Regions from separate parts of the Homo sapiens genome. Here region 1 is linked to region 2. The links come from fine-mapping of genetic effects on gene expression. A gene starts in region 2. The other region holds a variant in brackets. All regions are shown on one strand. Distances are between the middles of the regions.

The links. PIP is the estimated chance that this variant, and not a neighbour inherited with it, causes the effect.
Region 1: its variant is fine-mapped to the expression of C1QTNF4 in whole blood (INTERVAL, PIP 0.97).

The regions. Positions count from the first base shown.
Region 1 is chr11:47,520,824-47,529,153 of GRCh38, reverse strand. The region is part of intron 1 of CELF1 (CUGBP Elav-like family member 1); the gene reads left to right. Among named protein-coding and RNA genes, the nearest start is that of CELF1, 28 kb to the left of the region's middle. RefSeq lists a silencer at 4,257-4,316. The variant A/G (reference allele first, on the strand shown) is at 3,660.
Region 2 is chr11:47,590,334-47,598,663 of GRCh38, reverse strand. C1QTNF4 (C1q and TNF related 4) reads left to right here and starts at 4,253. Exons shown (of 2, transcript NM_031909.3): 1 at 4,253-4,516; 2 at 7,849-8,330. The coding sequence starts at 7,854.

The DNA.
Region 1 (8,330 bases), 70 kb after region 2:
GTGAGCTGAGATTGCGCCACTGTGCTCCAGCCTGAGCTACAGAGCAAGACTCTGTCTCAAAAAAAAAAAAAAAAAAGTAAAATAAACTGGGTGAGGTGGCACACATCTGTACTCAGTTCCAGATACTTGGGAGGCTGAAGTGAGAGGATCACTCCAGCCCAGGAGGTTGAGGCTGCAGTGAGCTGTGATCCTGCCACTGGACTCTAGCCTGGGAGACAGATATAAAAGTAAAAGCTGGAAGCTTTACCTTTCTTTTTTTTTTTGAGGCAGGGTCTCACTGTGTTGGCCTGGCTGGAGTGCAGTGGCGTGATCATAGCTCACTGCAGCCTTGAACTCCTGGAATCAAAATGATCCTCCTGCCTCAGCCTCCTGAGTAGCTGGGACCACAGGCAGGTGCCATCATGCCTGGCTAATTTTTGTGGCTTTTGTTTTTTTGTGGAGATGGGGTCTCACTGTATTGCTCAGGCAGGTCTCAAACTCTTGGCCTCAAGTGATACCTCTGCCTCGACCTCCCAATTTTTATTTTTATTTTTTTAAGAGACAGGATCTTGCTTTTTTCCATGCTGGAGTGCAGTGGCACAATCATAGCTCACTGCAGCCTCAAACTCCTGGCCTCAATGAACAGTCCTCCCACCTCGGCCTCCCAAAGTGCTTGTATTACAGATGTGAGCCACTGTGCCTGGCCAAACTTTAACTTTTTAAAAAAATGTGAGATGGAATAACTGTATATTGTTGTCTTGAGTCCTTAAACTGAAAATCTGGTAAAAGTTGTGAATCCATTTCCTTATAAATGCATACAGAGGTAGAGTTTTACACATAGTATAAGGAAGTTTTTTGAATTTATGAAATGTCAATGGGCCATACATATGGACCCCGATCTAGTCCAATCCCGTATTTCTCTTGAGGAAATAAGGGAGGAGAACTGACATATCAAAGGCCATACTTTACGTGTTTATAGTCATTTTGATTTTGAGGTTATACTTGGAGCAATTCCTTTTCATGTACACAACTGTGGTGTATTGCTGTGTGTTTGTTTTTGGGAGGGGTGGGGGGATGGGGGACAGATTTTCACTCTTGTCACCCAGGCCAGAGTGCAATGGTGTGATCCTGGCTCACTGCAACCTCCGCCTCTCGGGTTCAACCCATTCTCCTGTCTCAGCCTCCGGAGTAGCTGGGATTACAGGCATGCACCACCACGCCCAGCTAATTTTTGTATTTTTAGTAGAGACGGGGTTTCACCATGTTGGCCAGGCTGGTCTTGAACTCCTCACCTCAGGTGATCCACCTGCCTCGGCCTCCCAAAGTGCTGAGGTTACAGGCGTGAGCCACCACACCTGGCCTGCTTTGTGTTATTTTTACTTAGTTGCCTTCACACAAGTATTTTTAGTAGAGAACATACAGGTAATTAAAGCTGTGATCTTAAACACGAAAAAAGCATATTAATTCACAGTAAACTGCTCTTTGGGAAGTCAAAGTTGCTGTAATAGGACTGCTCAGATTCTTAAAAAATTAAATACAGTGTATACAATGAAGTCAGTATATACAATGAATAAGCCAGTATATACAATGAAGAGGCTTAATTTTTTTTTTAAGTTTTGTAGAGACAGGGTCTGTGTTGCCCAGGGTGTACTTGAACTCCTGATCTCAAGTGATCCTCTCCCTTGACCTCTCAAAGTGCTGGGATTACAGGGGTGAAACACTGCATGTGGCCCAGTTAAGAGGCTTTTACTTAAGAGGCTTTTACTTAATTTTTTTTGTTTTTTGAGGCAGTGTCTCACTTTGTCACCCAGGCCGGAGTGCGGTGGCACGATCACGGCTAACTGCAGTCTTGACCTCCTGGGCTCAAGGAATCTTCCCACCTCAGCCCCCTGAGTAGTTGGGACTACAGGCACGTGCCACCATGTCCGGCTAATTTTTTACTTCTTTCTGTAGAGATGAGGTCTCCTTATGTTTAGTGTTAAGAGGCTTTTAATAACATGTTGAATACTTGCATGTCTGTTTTATGGGACATGAATGTGCCTCTACTGCTGGAATCCTGCTGTGTACTCAGTAATGGATAGGAGCTAGGCAGTGCTTTTTTCTTTGAAGCTTTTTTTTTTTTTTAGACGGAGTTTTGCTCTTGTCGCCCAGGCTGGAGTGCAGTGGCACAATCTCGGCTGACTGCAACCTCTGCCTCCTGGGTTCAAGTGATTCTCCTGCCTCAGCCTCCTGAGTAGCTGGGATTACAGGCACGCGCCCCCACGCCCAGCTAATTTTTGTATTTTTAATAGAGACAGGGTTTCACCTTGTTGGCCAGGCTGGTCTTGAACTCCTGACCTCAGGTGATCCATCGTGGGATTGCAGGCACGAGCCACCACTGCCCGGCCTGGAACTCCTTTTGATGACTGGTTAACTTAGCAGTGTTTTATAATCAAGGATCTCATAGTTATATCAGCATAAACATTTCTAGTTCCACCATTCTATTTCCCTGTGACAGGGTTTTTGTTTTTGTTTTTTCTTAATAGTGGTTTAAAATTTATTCAACAGGCTAGGCAGAAATGTCTCAGATGGAAGAACATTTTCCTGAAAGTGTTACATGAGAAATGTTACAGTGGATGCTGAGTTATGGTCTGAATTTATTTTTATCTTAGTTTAGAATATGTTTTCTCTAAAGTAGGCAAAAACTATAATTTTGCTTCCATAAGCAGTGTGGTATTAATCTCATACTATGAAACATTTCAGGTTGAAACCACACTCAGAGTTTCAGAAATGGAGGGATCTTAGAAATCATCTTGTTCAAATTCTGTATTCTTCACATTTAAGATATCGCAGGTGCCTTCTTTTTTTCTTCCTTGAGACAGAGTTTTGCTCTTGTTACCTAAGCTGGAGTGCAATGGCACAATCTTGGCTCACGGCAACCTCCGCTTCCCAGGTTCAAGCGATTCTCCTGCCTCAGCCACCCCCACACCTGGCATGCACCACCACACCTGGCTAATTTTGTATTTTTAGTAAAGACGGGGTTTCTCCCTGTTGGTCAGGCTGGTCTCGAACTCCGGACCTGAGGTGATCTGCCCACCTTGGCCTCCCAAAGTGCTGGGATTACAGACGTGAGCTACCACTCCTGGTGCGCAGGTGCCCTTAATGAGAGTTCTGGTAGGTGGGATAAGCAAGAAAGTCTAGGTCTGTCTGTTCTCAGTCTCTCTTCTCTCTTTTCTTTCTTCCTTTTTTTTTTTTGTTTGTTTTTTTGTTTGTTTGTGGATAGAGACGGGTTCTCGCCACATTGCCCAGGCTGGTCTCAAACTCCTGGGCTCAAGTGGTCCACCCACCTTGGCCTACCAAAGTGCTGAGATTATACATGTGAGCTATCAAGGCCAGCCTCTCTTCTCTTAATGTGTATAGCATTTATAGTTTGTACCCCACGCTTTAGTGCAGTAGTCATGTACTGTCTGCCTTTATTATTAATATCTCATGTTAATCTCATCTAGGAATTAGATTGGAGGTCACTGATACTATGGTTTTGATTTGTGCTGTAGCCCCTATGATACCGAATAAATACATAACCAGGCTGGGCTTGGTGGCTCATGCCAGTAATCCCAGCCCTTTGGCAAGCCGAAGTGAGTGGATCACTTGTACCTAGGAGTTTGAGACCCGCCTGGGCAGCATGGTGAAACCCCATCTCT[A/G]TAAGGGGGGAATAAAATTACATAGGTGGTATGCACTAAGTACTTCAGTAAGGGCTGAAGAATAGAATCATTTGAGCCAATCAGCCATGCATTTCTTATTGTTGGAAAATTCACTCTGGTCAGCAATTAAGCTTTTCACATACTTCACATTGAAGTGAATCTAAATGAATTGTTCTAAGTAAAATAATTTTTGGAACACAAATATTTGGCTTCTGGTTATATAAGCCATCATCCTCAGACATAGATTTTAAAAATTATATTAGAGTTTATTTTAACTTGTATCAACCATAAAATAAAAAAGAGCTCAAAACATACACAGTTGGAATGAGACCTTCATTCTGAAAGCAGCAAGGAACTAGTGAAAGTTAACATTGTTCACTCGAATGGAGAATAACCTTTTTTTGCATGTTAAATTTTAGGATTTAAATGATAAATTGAGCCTCACCACTACTGCTGATCTGGGAAGAATCTGACCTAGTAAAGGTTTTCAAATGTCTTTTCCATTTCCCGTGGCTGAGGGATTCTTGGTGTCAGTGACTGAAATTATTTGGAAGTTCCTTGACTGAAATAGAATATCTCAAACCTTATTTCAAGTACCAGCCTGTGTGTTTCTGTTTTTTGTCTGGAGCATGTGAACAGAATGCATGTGTGTGAGATAATTGGGCTTTCACTAATGGCCCCCTTTCAGCAACCATGTATGGGTAAAGCTGTTCAGTTCCCTGCTCCTCCCTCTCTGAGCACGGAGCAGAATCTGTTCTGCTGAAGCTGCTGTTCCACTTTTTAGCTTGCTATATTTGTACAGCAACAGCAGGAGCAGCCCACTAGCTAGGCCGTGTGGCCACCCTTTGGCACCCGCACCGGCTCAGACCTGCTCAGGACTCAGCCAGGGCACACAGTTTGTGTTCTTACGTGCATCCATCTGTCTGTCTGTGTGCGTCTCTGTGGAGGACTGAGGTTTTCAAGTGAAAGAGGTGACTCGTTTGTCTTTGTTGTTTTGCTGTGTTCAGGTTTGTCAATTGTAAATTGTAGAGAATGCTTCAGGTTGTTAGGGATGGGGTGAGGAGACAAGATTTGTATTTAACAAAATACCGTCTTGGCGAGAGGGTACCAAACAGGGAAATGTGATGTCAGAAATGGTCTTTGGGTTCCCTTAGAAACATACCTTGTTGAAGTGGTAGTGTTTTTTTTTTCCTCTTTGTTTTGTTACAGGTCACAAAGATCAGCTCTTGGGGTGGTATTGAATTCCTTTCCTGGCACTCAAATTTTTTGACATAAAATTTGAGTATAAAAAGATGAGGCACCTCCACCCCTTTAAGAAATGATTTAGTGCACATCTTGAAAGAGTGCAGTAGGGGTTAAGTGTGTTGACTTCGCTGTCTGCCAGGAAAGGAACTGTGGGGAATGCCCTGTTGCTTTGGGCCCCACAGCAACCTATGCTGTTTGCGCTGTTTGAGTGCTTTGTAAAGTTTGGCCTTACAGAGGCCTTGTAATGCCTTTTGGTGTCATGTCTGTTTAAGGAATAGCAGAAGACATGACATGTAGACAAATTTCAGGTTATTTTCAGAAGATACTGGGTTTGTTACTGTATTTTAAAAGGATACTTTCTTGGTTTGTTATGAGATATTCTAATTAAACAGTGATGAATTCTTACTCCTGGTCAGTGTAAGTCTAAATTCAAGTTTGTTGCTTTGTTTTACAGTTTCCTTTCACTCCCCTCCCCCATCCCCTCATGAGTCATAAGCATGCAGTGTTGGGAATAGAACTTGTCAGCTGAGTGGGGATGAGACAGTTCTCTGCCCATACTATTTGTAACTGTAGTCAATGAGGAGAGGAAAGGACGTTATTAAATGCTGGAGAAACACCTTGATTGAGGCAGCTTCTTCTGTGGCTGTGTGGTATGGATGCAGAGTTCTGTGTGACTATACACTGATGTATTCTGGCTCTGAATCACTTAGGGATCTCTTCTGCACCTTGTGCATTGTAGGTTTTGGATGCTTATTTGTTTAGGGTCTAGGACCTGGTGCTTAGCCTCTCCTGGATCCTGTATATTTACTGACTTTCCAAATTCTTTTGAGTGTGGCATTATATCTGCTTCATCTTCTCTTTCTTGGCTATTCTTAGTGCCCTTCTCATTTTACTGTCCTAATGTTTTCCCATTTATACTATGAATCATTGTGCACCCTATGTAGAGCCTGTCATTGGAGATTAAAATCAGTGGCAGCTCTTTGATTTTACAGCTCAGCCTCAGTAAGTGACACTCTGATTAGCACACCTATATTCTAGCTTTCTTTTTGTTCTTGGCCTTTTTTAAAATTTATAACTTCCCTGGTCTCATTTTATTAGTTTATATTTTTCCAGTGTGTCCATTTTGAAAGCTTCATGAAAGAAATTTTTTTTTTGGTTTGATGGAAGGAATGAATAAATGTTTATACATAAATAAGTGTTCTCAGAACAAGTGGTTTGGTAATCCATAATGAAGATATACTGGACTCTAACAGGCCCAGTTGGAGGTGCAAGATCTGTCAGCCTATTGCTGCCAGAATTCTTACCTATTCACTTCCCCCTCCTGCTAGGAAATATTTTGGAATAATCTCAGGTACCCAATTTTTTTTTTAAATAAATGAAGCCTATTTTATTACTTCAAGTTTGCTTTTTTTTTTTTTTTTCTGGAGATGGAGTCTCGCTCTGTTGCCCAGGCTGGAGTGCAGTGGCACGAACTCAGCTCACTGCAGCCTCCACCTCCCAGGTTCAAGCAATTCTCCTGCCTCAGCCTCTGAGTAGCTGCGACTACAAGCGCATGCCACCACACCTGGCTAATTTTTGTATTTTAGTAGAGATGGGGTTTCACCACGTTGGCCAGGCTGGTCTCGAACTCCTGACCTCAGGTGATCCACCCACCTTGGCCTCCCAAAGTGCTGGGATTACAGGCCTGAGCCACTGTGCCTGGCGTTTTGTTGTTGTTGTTGTTGTTGTTTTAGACAGAATCTTGCTCTGTCACCAAGGCTGGAGTGCAATGGCACAATCTCAGCTCACTGCAACCTCTGCCTCCCGGGTTCTCCTGACTCAGCCTCCGTAGTAGTAGCTGGGACTTCAGACGCCCACCACCATGCCCAGCTAATTTTTGTATTTTTAGTAGAGATGGGGTTTCACCATGTTGGCCAGGCTGGTCTCCAACTCCTGATCTCGGGTGATCCACCTGCCTTGGCCTCCCAAAGTGCTGGGGTTACAGGCTTGAGCCACCATGCCCGGCCTACTTCAAGTGTTAATGATAAAAAAAATTTCAGCTGGGCAAGGTGGCTCACACCTGTAATCCTAGCACTTTGGGAGGCCGAGGCAGGCAGATCACCTGAGGTCGGGAGTTCAAGACCAGCCTGACCAACATGGAGAAACCCCGTGTCTACTAAAAATACAAAAAAATCAGCCAGGCTTGGTGGCACATGCCAGTAATCCCAGCTACTCGGGAGGCTGAGGCCGGAGAATCTCTCGAATCCGGGAGATGGAGGTTGTGATGAGCTGAGATCATGCCATTGCACTCCAGCCTGGGCAACAAGAGCAAAACCCGTGTCAAAAAAAAAAAAAAATCAGCATAGCTGTTGCATTTTAAAAAGTGAAACTACACACTATGTTTCTAGCTCAGTAAACAGATGAACCTGTTGTCTTTGAGTAACATAACCATTGAGCGTTGTACAGTACATCTTAAGATCAGGTACTTTATTTTGAAGAGATAGAATCATCATGTAACAGGCTGAAATTTTTTGGGACTCATTCTTTTCCACCATAAACACCAAGCTTGGTGCCCAGAATAATAATAGTAGCAAATGTTTATTGAGCACTTTCTATGTGTCAGGCACTATTCTAAATGCTTTACATGTATAAATTTAATTCTAACAAATATCCTGTAAGGTAGATACTGTTTGTGTAACCATTTTGTGCATGAAGAAACAGAGGTATTTATGAAGAAGTTAAACAATTTCCCCAGTTACCTGGCTAGTAAGCAGCAAAACTGGGATTAGAAAGCAGTGGTATGACTCTAGAGTCTAGGTATAGGGTACATTGTGGGTTTGTAGTAAATATTTGTCTATTTTATTAGCACACTTTGTTATTTGAGATTATTAAATTATGAATCAGTCTAACCCATTTTCATTTTAGAATTTCCTTATGAAAATAACTATATGATTTTGGTTTTGCAGATCACCATCAACTGTACTAGTTCATTTATTTTTTATTTTATTTTTTATTTTTGGAGACGGAGTCTCTCTCAGTCGCCCAGGCTGGAGTGCAGTGGCACGACGTCGGCTCACTGCAAACTCCGCCTCCCAGGTTCACGCCATTCTCCTGCCTCAGCCTCCGGAGTAGCTGGGACTACAGGCGCCCGCCACTATGCCCGGCTAATTTTTTTGTATTTTTAGTAGAGATGGGGTTTCACTGTATTAGCCAGGATGGACTCGATCTCCTAACTTCGTGATCCGCCCATCTTGGCCTCCCAGAGTGCTGGGATTACAGGCGTGAGCCACCACGCCCGGCCCTCTAGTTCATTTATTGGTGGTAAAGAACAGCAAGCCAAGTAACAAGTTTGTGAAACATCTCTAAAATTACTAGTTTATCTCCACTAGTACCAGACTATTTACTGAAGATATTGAAAGCAGAATTAATTTTAGCCTTTTTTGGGTC
Region 2 (8,330 bases):
CACATGGCCCTAAGAAGGGCTGCATGGCCCTAAGAAGGGTTGTGGCTGCCCTAGGTTGGCTTCCAGCCTTCCCCAGCTCTCCTGCGGCATCCCTGTGTGGCTCATCCCACCCTTACCATGCCTCTTGTCTTCCCCATAGTCTTGGGGCCCAAGCTTTTCAAGCTGGTGAAGGAGAGAGTTGTGATCCCAAGAAGCGGAGTGAGCGAGCGGGGAAATGAGACAAAGAGAGGAAACAGAATAAAGTGCACAGATAGGCCGGGCGCAGTGGCTCACACCTGTAATCCCAGCACTTTGGGGGGCCAAGATGGGTGGATCACGAGGTCAGGAGATCGAGACCATCCTGGCTAACACAGTGAAACCCCATCTCTACTAAAAATACAAAAAAAAAAATTAGCCGGGCGTGGTGGCGGGCGCCTGTAGTCCCAGCTACTCAGGAGGCTGAGGCAGCAGAATGGCGTGAACCCGGGAGGCGGAGCTTGCGGTGAGCCAAGATCGCGCCACCGCACTCCAGCCTGGGCGACTGAGCGAGACTCCGTCTCAAAAAAAAAAAAAAAAGCGCACAGATACCAGTGGGTTTTCACCATGGAGAACTTAACTCTGCTGGAGTCTCTCTGAGTCTGAAACATGACCTGGAATTGGGAATTGGAATGCTCCCATCGAGGGACCAGAAAGCTGGGGTATTTACCCCTAACTCTGGACCATTGGCTGATGGTTGCTCTGGGGGTATTAACTCTACAGCCCTTTGGGCCTGCCCCACACTAACTCCCATAGCTGAAAATGCCCTCAGGAGGGACACAGGAAGTAGGCGCCTGGTCAGGAACTGTCTGTGGGTGCCCTCCTGGTAGGCCTGGAGGTGTGGGTGGGCCACTGACAGCATCTACTACACTCAGTGAAAGGAACCTGCTATTAAAATTATTGTTGTTGGCTGGGCACCGTGGCTCACGCCTGTAATCCCAGCATTTTGGGAGGCCGAGGCAGGTGGATTACTTGAGGTCAGGAGTTCAAGACCAGCCTGGCCAACGCCATCTCTACTAAAAATACAAAAATTAGCCTGGTGTGGTGGCATACGCCTGTAATCCCAGCTACTCAGGAGGCTGAGGCAGGAGAATCACTTGAACCCAGGAGGCGGAGGTTGCAGTGAGCCGAGATCGCACCATTGCATTCCAGCTTGGGTGACAAGAGTGAAACTCCATTTCAAAAAATAAAAATAAATAAAAATTATTGTTGTTTATTAGCTGCCACGTGGTGGCAGGCTGACGGGGGAGGATCACTTAAGCCCAGGCTGCAATGAGCCAAGATCGTGCCACTGCACTCCAGCCTGGGTGACAGAGTAAGAACCTATCTCAGCCAGGCGCAGTGGCTCACTCCTGAAATCCCAGCATTTTGGGAGGCTGAGGCGGGCGGATCACCTGAGGTCAGGAGTTTGAGAACAGCCTGACCAACATGCAGAAACTCCATCTCTACTAAGAATACAAAATTAGCCAGGGTGGTGGTGCATACCTGTAATCCCAGCTACTCAGGAGGCTGAGGCAGGAGAATCACTTGAACCTGGGAGCGGGAGGTTGCGGTGAGCCAAGATTGCTCCATTGCACGCCAGCCTGGGCAACAAGAGCAAAACTCCATCTCAAGAAAAGAAAAAAGAACCCGTCTCAATTTATATATATTTTAATGTTAATTTTTTTAACTTTTTTTTTAAGTGATGGGGACAGCTGGGCGCGGTGGCTCACGCCTGTAATCCCAGCACTTTGAGAGGCCAAGGCGGGCGGATCACGAGGTCAGGAGTTCCAAGACCAGCCTGACCAACATGGTGAAACCCCGTCTCTACTAAAAATACAAAATATTAGTCGGACATGGTGGCGCGCTCCTGTAATCCCAGGTACTCAGGAGGCTGAGGCAGGAGAATCGCTTGAACCCGGGAGGCGGAGGTTGCAGTGAGCCAAGATCGCAGCATTGCACTCCAGCCTGGGCAACAGAGCGAGAGTCTGTCTCAGAAAAAAAAAAAAAAAAGAGAGAGAGAGATGGGGTCTCACTCTGTTGCCCAGAGTGGTCTCAAACTTCTGAGCTCAAGCGATCTTCCCACCTTGGCCTCCCAAAGTGCTAATATCATAGGCGTAAGCCACCATGCCCAGCCATACCCGTCTCAATTAAAAAATAAATAAAATAATTGTTGTTTAAGACCAGCCTGGGCAACAGAGTGAGACCTCGTCTCTACAAAAAATTTTAAAAAAAATTAGCCAGGCATGGTGACCTGCACCTGTAGTCCCAGCTACCTGGGAGGCTGAGGTGGGAGAATCACTTGAGCCCGCAAGGTCAAAGCTGCAGTGAGCCAAGATCATACCATTGCACTCCAGCCCAGGTGACACAGCAAGACCCTCTCTCAAAAATAAATAAAATTGTGGCTGCAAAACAAGAGAGGAGGGAGCAGGGACTATAACCAGCCTAGGGCTTTTCTCTGGATCCTGCTGCCACCTCTTCTTAACTCCCATTCTGGAGCCCACCCATCTGCCTTACACCCACCAGCTCATGGCATCATCTTTCTCTATATCCCTTTCCCAGTGGCTTCCTCCCTATCCCAGTCCCCTGATGCAAATCCTGATGTCATCTGCCCCAGCCACCCATCTCTACCTCAACCCTCACTTCTCTGGTGAGAACTCTTGTGGATCCAGGGAGTGTCAAATCCCAGCCTGAACCAAACCTCAACTGAGATTATATTATCCTATAATATACCTTCTCCCCTCCCCTCCCCTCCCACCATTGGAATCACCCTCAGGAGAGCAGCTCCACTCTTCTCATCCAGAAGGGGCCCATGGCCCTAAGAAGGGCCATAGATTGCCATAGGTTGGCTTTTGGCATCCCCCAGCTCTCCTTCGACATCCCTGTGTGGCTCATCCCACCCTTACCCTGCTTCTTGTCCTCCCCACAGTCCTGTGGCCCAAGCTTTTCAAGTTGGTGAAAGAGACAGTTGTGATCTGACAAGGGCTAGACAGGTGCTTCACCCTCTGTCACCAAATACCCTCATTATCCAGCCCAAAACACCTCCATTCATTCCTTTCTATTCTGGCACATATTCGTTAATTCATTCCATCATTCACCTAACACCCTTGAAGCAGAGCCAATCACCTCTACCAACATCTTCCTAGAGACAAATAGATTAACTGGGGTGGGGTAAACTTTGAGAGCTCCAAAAGGAAAGCTCCAGAGGACGGGGGTTCTGCAGGGGTCCAGGCCTCTCAGGGACCACAGAGCAGACCTGCAGCAGAGGCAGAATTAGAGCCCATGGCTCTGGAGTCAACCAGGGCCAGGCAGAGGGCACCAGCTCTTGGCTGCTGAAAGTAGAGCTCTTCAAAAGTCATCCACTCAGTCAGCATCTACTGAGTGCCAGGCAGTGTCGTCACCTCTACAGCCGTCAGGGGAGAGAACAGCAGCCTAGAGAAAGGGAGTCTGAGCCCCCATCCCACGGGCTCGAAGCCCAGAGTAGAGGCCAGCACTAGTGCCTCTGGTGAGTATTACCATGGGAAGACCGCTGTTCCCAGCCCGGGTGCCCTGCTGGACTCTTGCTAGCCTGGCCCCAGCGAGGCAGGGCATCAGTTTCCCTCTCCAGAGGCCTTTCTTCCCCACCTATTGCCCTCTCAATCCTGTCCCTTCTTGCAGGAGCAACCTTCCCAGCAGAAAATTCCATTCTGCCCCAAGGACTCTCCTCCTTACTGCCCCTCACCCCGGGGAACGCAGGCTGCCCCTCTGATGCCTGCAGACTCCCTTCTCCCTCTTTCCTAACCGACCGTGGGCATTTTCCAATTTGGAGGTGAGGAGGAAAAACTAGGTTATTTTCAGCTCTTCCTTTACTGGCAACATTGACCCATTTATCCTTCTCTTCCTTCAGACCTCTCCCCCAAGGCCACTTAGCTTGGACATCTGTCCCAGCCAAAATCTCACCTTCCACTGTCCTTGCAGCCCAAAGGCTAGTCCAGCCTCTGAGTCCAGCTCTAGCCCTCTCTCCCCACACTAGGAAGGAAGCTGGACTGTAGAGCGCTCTGGGCCACCCCGCGTTAGCTGCTGCCTCTGGCCTCAGTTTCCCCAACTGCTCAGATTAATGATGCCTGCTCTCTAGACCCAGAGGACGAAGCTCTAAGGAGGTCACAGATGAGGAAGGGTCCAGTGCTCGGCGCAGACTCCGTGCGGAGCCCCTAGGCCCCGCAGCTCGCCCCTCCCTCTCCCCTACTCCCCTCCTCTCCCCCTCCCGTCTCTCCCCCGCCTCTTCGCTCTCGCTCGGCTCCCTCTCTAGCTGACCTTCCCTTTCCCTCACGCCTCCCCACGCCCGGCCCCTGGCCCCAGCACCCTGTCCGCTGCCGCCTCAGAGCCGGGAAAAGCAGCCGGAGCCCCCGCCGCCCCTGCCGCAGCGCGGGCGGTCAGCGCGCAGCCCGGCACCCGCAGCCTGCAGCCTGCAGCCCGCAGCCCGCAGCCCGGAGCCAGATCGCGGGCTCAGACCGAACCCGACTCGACCGCCGCCCCCAGCCAGGTGAGGGCAGCTGAGGGGAGGCAGGGAGCCGAGGTTCCCCCTTTACTGGAAGCGAGGGCTGGGGAGGCGCGGGGAAATTGGGTCCTTTTTCCTTGAAAGGAGGACCTGGGAGCCTTTTCGTGAAACAGGCACAAGGGCTTTCATTCCAAAGGGATGGATGGATGGAGGGAAGGTCTCGGGGGAGAGGGATTGGTTTTTGTTTTTTAAAAATAAGGATTAATTGGCTTCTGTGAAAGTGGGACTTCTTGGAAGGATGAGGGGCTTTCAAGGTAGGTTGGGGAGGGGGCTCTGGCAGGGCTTGAGGGAAGGGTTAACTGGTGAGTGGCAGGGCAAGGGGGAACTCTGCGATCCCCTCAGCCTGACATCGCTGCACCTCCCGCCTTGGCTCCGGGGCTCTGGGTCTCTCCAGCTCTGTGTCCCAGTTTTTCTCTTTGAAGATGACTATTTTGAACCCCACCTGGACAGAGCCAGGAACAGCCATTTCCTTCCCTGGAGCTATGACACCCACCTGACACACCCTCCCACACCTCTGACCTGCTCAGGGAAGGGGGTTCAGGGAAGGACGAGGATCCAGGGATCTGGGAATTGGGCAGTGTGGGTGAAACGGAGGCTGGGTACTGGGTGCACAGGAAGACCCTTGGCACTGGTGGGGTGCACCAGCCTTGGTCAGGAGGTTGCTGGGCAGCTGCTTCTGGGGCAGGACCCACTAGGAAAGCAGCGGTATGGAAAAGCTGAGCTGTTTTCCGTGTTCCCAGAAGACAAAACACTAGAGAATGTGTTTGCTTGCTTTTGTTTGGTTTTGCTTTCTGTCTTCCTCACCCTGGATCCCAAGACTCATTCCTCTGATCTCCTCTCCTAGTTTTGCAAAAAGGTAAACTGAGGCACAGAACAAATTGGCTGGACATACCTGTGTCTAGGAGGGAAGAGTGACAGGAAGGCATACGGAATTTGAGTCAAAAAACCTCAGTGCTCCATGGGTGACCTTGGGCCAAAATGCTTTCCCTTGTTGGGCCTCAGCTTTCTCATCTATAAAATGGGAGACGGCCCACCTGTCTTGTAGGTTTGCCAAGACCATGTGTCTAAAAGAACTTTGTAAAAGGGAATGCACTGGACACTTGTGAGGTGCCATCTTCACCACTGTGGATGGCCCCTTCCCTCCTCCCTGTCCTAACCAAGGGACACCTAACTAATCCATAGGACACCTTTGTGAGAATTACAAAAAGCACCTCCTCTGGAAGGAGACAGCATTCAGTTGGCTAGCAACTTGGGGTCTTTAGTATGAGAATGAGAAGGTGGCATACTTTACGCCAGGTGCTGCTCTAACATGTGGAGTGTGAGCTAGATTCTAGCTGGGACGTTCTGCACATCTACACCTGACAACCCTTCTCAGCAGGTCCCTGCTGTCTCTAAGAGACACAGAGCTACACATACAGGGCATTTTCTAAAGCAGCCCACATCCCAGGCTGTCTCCAGCTCATTTCTTTCCTGTTTTGTTTCCACATCAGGGCTTTTGGGTATTCAAGCCCCAAAGCACGTGCCCTACTAGGAAGCAGGATGGAATCCCTACATCAGAGAGTGACTCCTTTGAGTTAAGCAGTGCCTTCACCAAGCTCTCAGGGGTAGGAGTGACTGAGTCCCTAAACCCTTACGTCAAGAACTGGACCAGATCACTTTTGTCAGGGCAACCGACAGAAGCATCTGCACACCTCAGCACTGCCGTTGACAAACCATGTTCACACCTATCTCAGCACACCCCCACAGCAAGCCTGTGTGTGAGGTCTCTTCCCCATTTACATGGAGGAAGCCATGCCCAGAGAAGTTAGGGAACCTGCCCAAGGTTTCACAGTGTGAGTGGTAGAGCCAGGACCTGAACCCAGATCTGGCTATCTGTCCTCTCCAATCCATCACTCCCAAGGAACAAAGCTGCTGACTTCACAGCCTTGCCAAAGCCCTGCTGGAATTGTTGCTGTCCCTGTCCATCCCCAGTAGCCCCTGGCTCGCCACTCCTTCTTCTGAGTAACCAGCCTCCAAGCAAAGAGAAAGGAGTCACCTTCTCTTTTACTCTGATTTCAAGGGGGAGGAAGCTACCTCAAAGCCCAACTGTTCTCGCCTCCTCTGTGCAGGAAGGGCCCCTGGTGAGGCCAGGAAAGGGGTCAGGGAGCAGCGATTTCCTTTCCTGCTCAGATGGGGCTTAAACAGTAACGGTCATGCAGAGCGTTGACACAGAGAGCCAGTGCCTGCGTGAGTGGCAGACCAAGGACCATAAAATAACCACAGGAAAATGCAGCCAACTGGAGCTGAGGGGAACTCAGAGACTCCCCTGAATCCCCCGGGTTACCAGGGCCCCTGAGTGTCAAATGGGAGGTGTAGGGGCAAGCCCAGCAGACAGGGCTGTAGGCCTCTTTAACCAGAGTGTTTCTGCTAGTCTGTGTTCAAGCTTTCACTTAAGAAAGGGGTTTCGGCCGGGCGCGGTGGCTCACGCCTGTAATCCCAGCACTTTGGGAGGCCGAGGCAGGCGGATCACAAGGTCAAGAGATCAAGACCATCCTGGCCAACATGGTGAAACCCTGTCTCTACTAAAAATACAAAAATTAGCTGGGTGTGCTGGGTGCAAGCCTGTAGTCCCAGCTACTTGGGAGGCTGAGGCGGGAGAATCGCTTGAACCTGGGAGGTGGAGGCTGCAGTGAGCCGAGATCAAGCCACTGCACTCCAGCCTGGCGACACAGCCAGACTCCGTCTCAAAAAAAAAAGGGGGGGGGGCGGGGTTTCAAGGCCAGGCGCGATGGCTCACGCCTGTAATCCCAGCACTTTGGGAGGCTGAGGCAGGTGGATCACTTGAGGTCAGTTCAAGACCAGCCTGGCCAACATGGTGAAACCCCGTCTCTACTAAAGATACAAAAAATTAGCTGGGCGTGATGGTGCGCACCTGTAATGTCAGCTACTCAGGAGGCTAAGGCAGGAGAACTGCTTGAACCCGGGAGGTGGAGGTTGCAGTGAAACGAGATCGTGCCACTACACTCCAGCCTGGTTCACAGAGCGAGACTCCATCTCAAAACAAACAAACAAAACAAAGAAATGCAAATTATCAGGCCCATCACAGACCTACTGAATGAACTCTGGTGATGGGGCCCAACTATGTATGTTTGAACACGCCCTCCAAGTGACAGTGAGGCTCGCTAGAGTTTGAGAATCCAAGGATGTAGGAAAATTGAAACCTACTTGTGGGTCAAGGGCAGGGCTGGGAAGAGAACCCTTGTCTCCCGGTGGAGAGCCGGGCGTTTGGAAGCCGCCCCTGCCAACACTCCACTCTCGCCCCTCCGTCTCCCTCCCAGGCGCCATGCTGCCGCTTCTGCTGGGCCTGCTGGGCCCAGCGGCCTGCTGGGCCCTGGGCCCGACCCCCGGCCCGGGATCCTCTGAGCTGCGCTCGGCCTTCTCGGCGGCACGCACCACCCCCCTGGAGGGCACGTCGGAGATGGCGGTGACCTTCGACAAGGTGTACGTGAACATCGGGGGCGACTTCGATGTGGCCACCGGCCAGTTTCGCTGCCGCGTGCCCGGCGCCTACTTCTTCTCCTTCACGGCTGGCAAGGCCCCGCACAAGAGCCTGTCGGTGATGCTGGTGCGAAACCGCGACGAGGTGCAGGCGCTGGCCTTCGACGAGCAGCGGCGGCCAGGCGCGCGGCGCGCAGCCAGCCAGAGCGCCATGCTGCAGCTCGACTACGGCGACACAGTGTGGCTGCGGCTGCATGGCGCCCCGCAGTACGCGCTAGGCGCGCCCGGCGCCACCTTCAGCGGCTACCTAGTCTACGCCGAC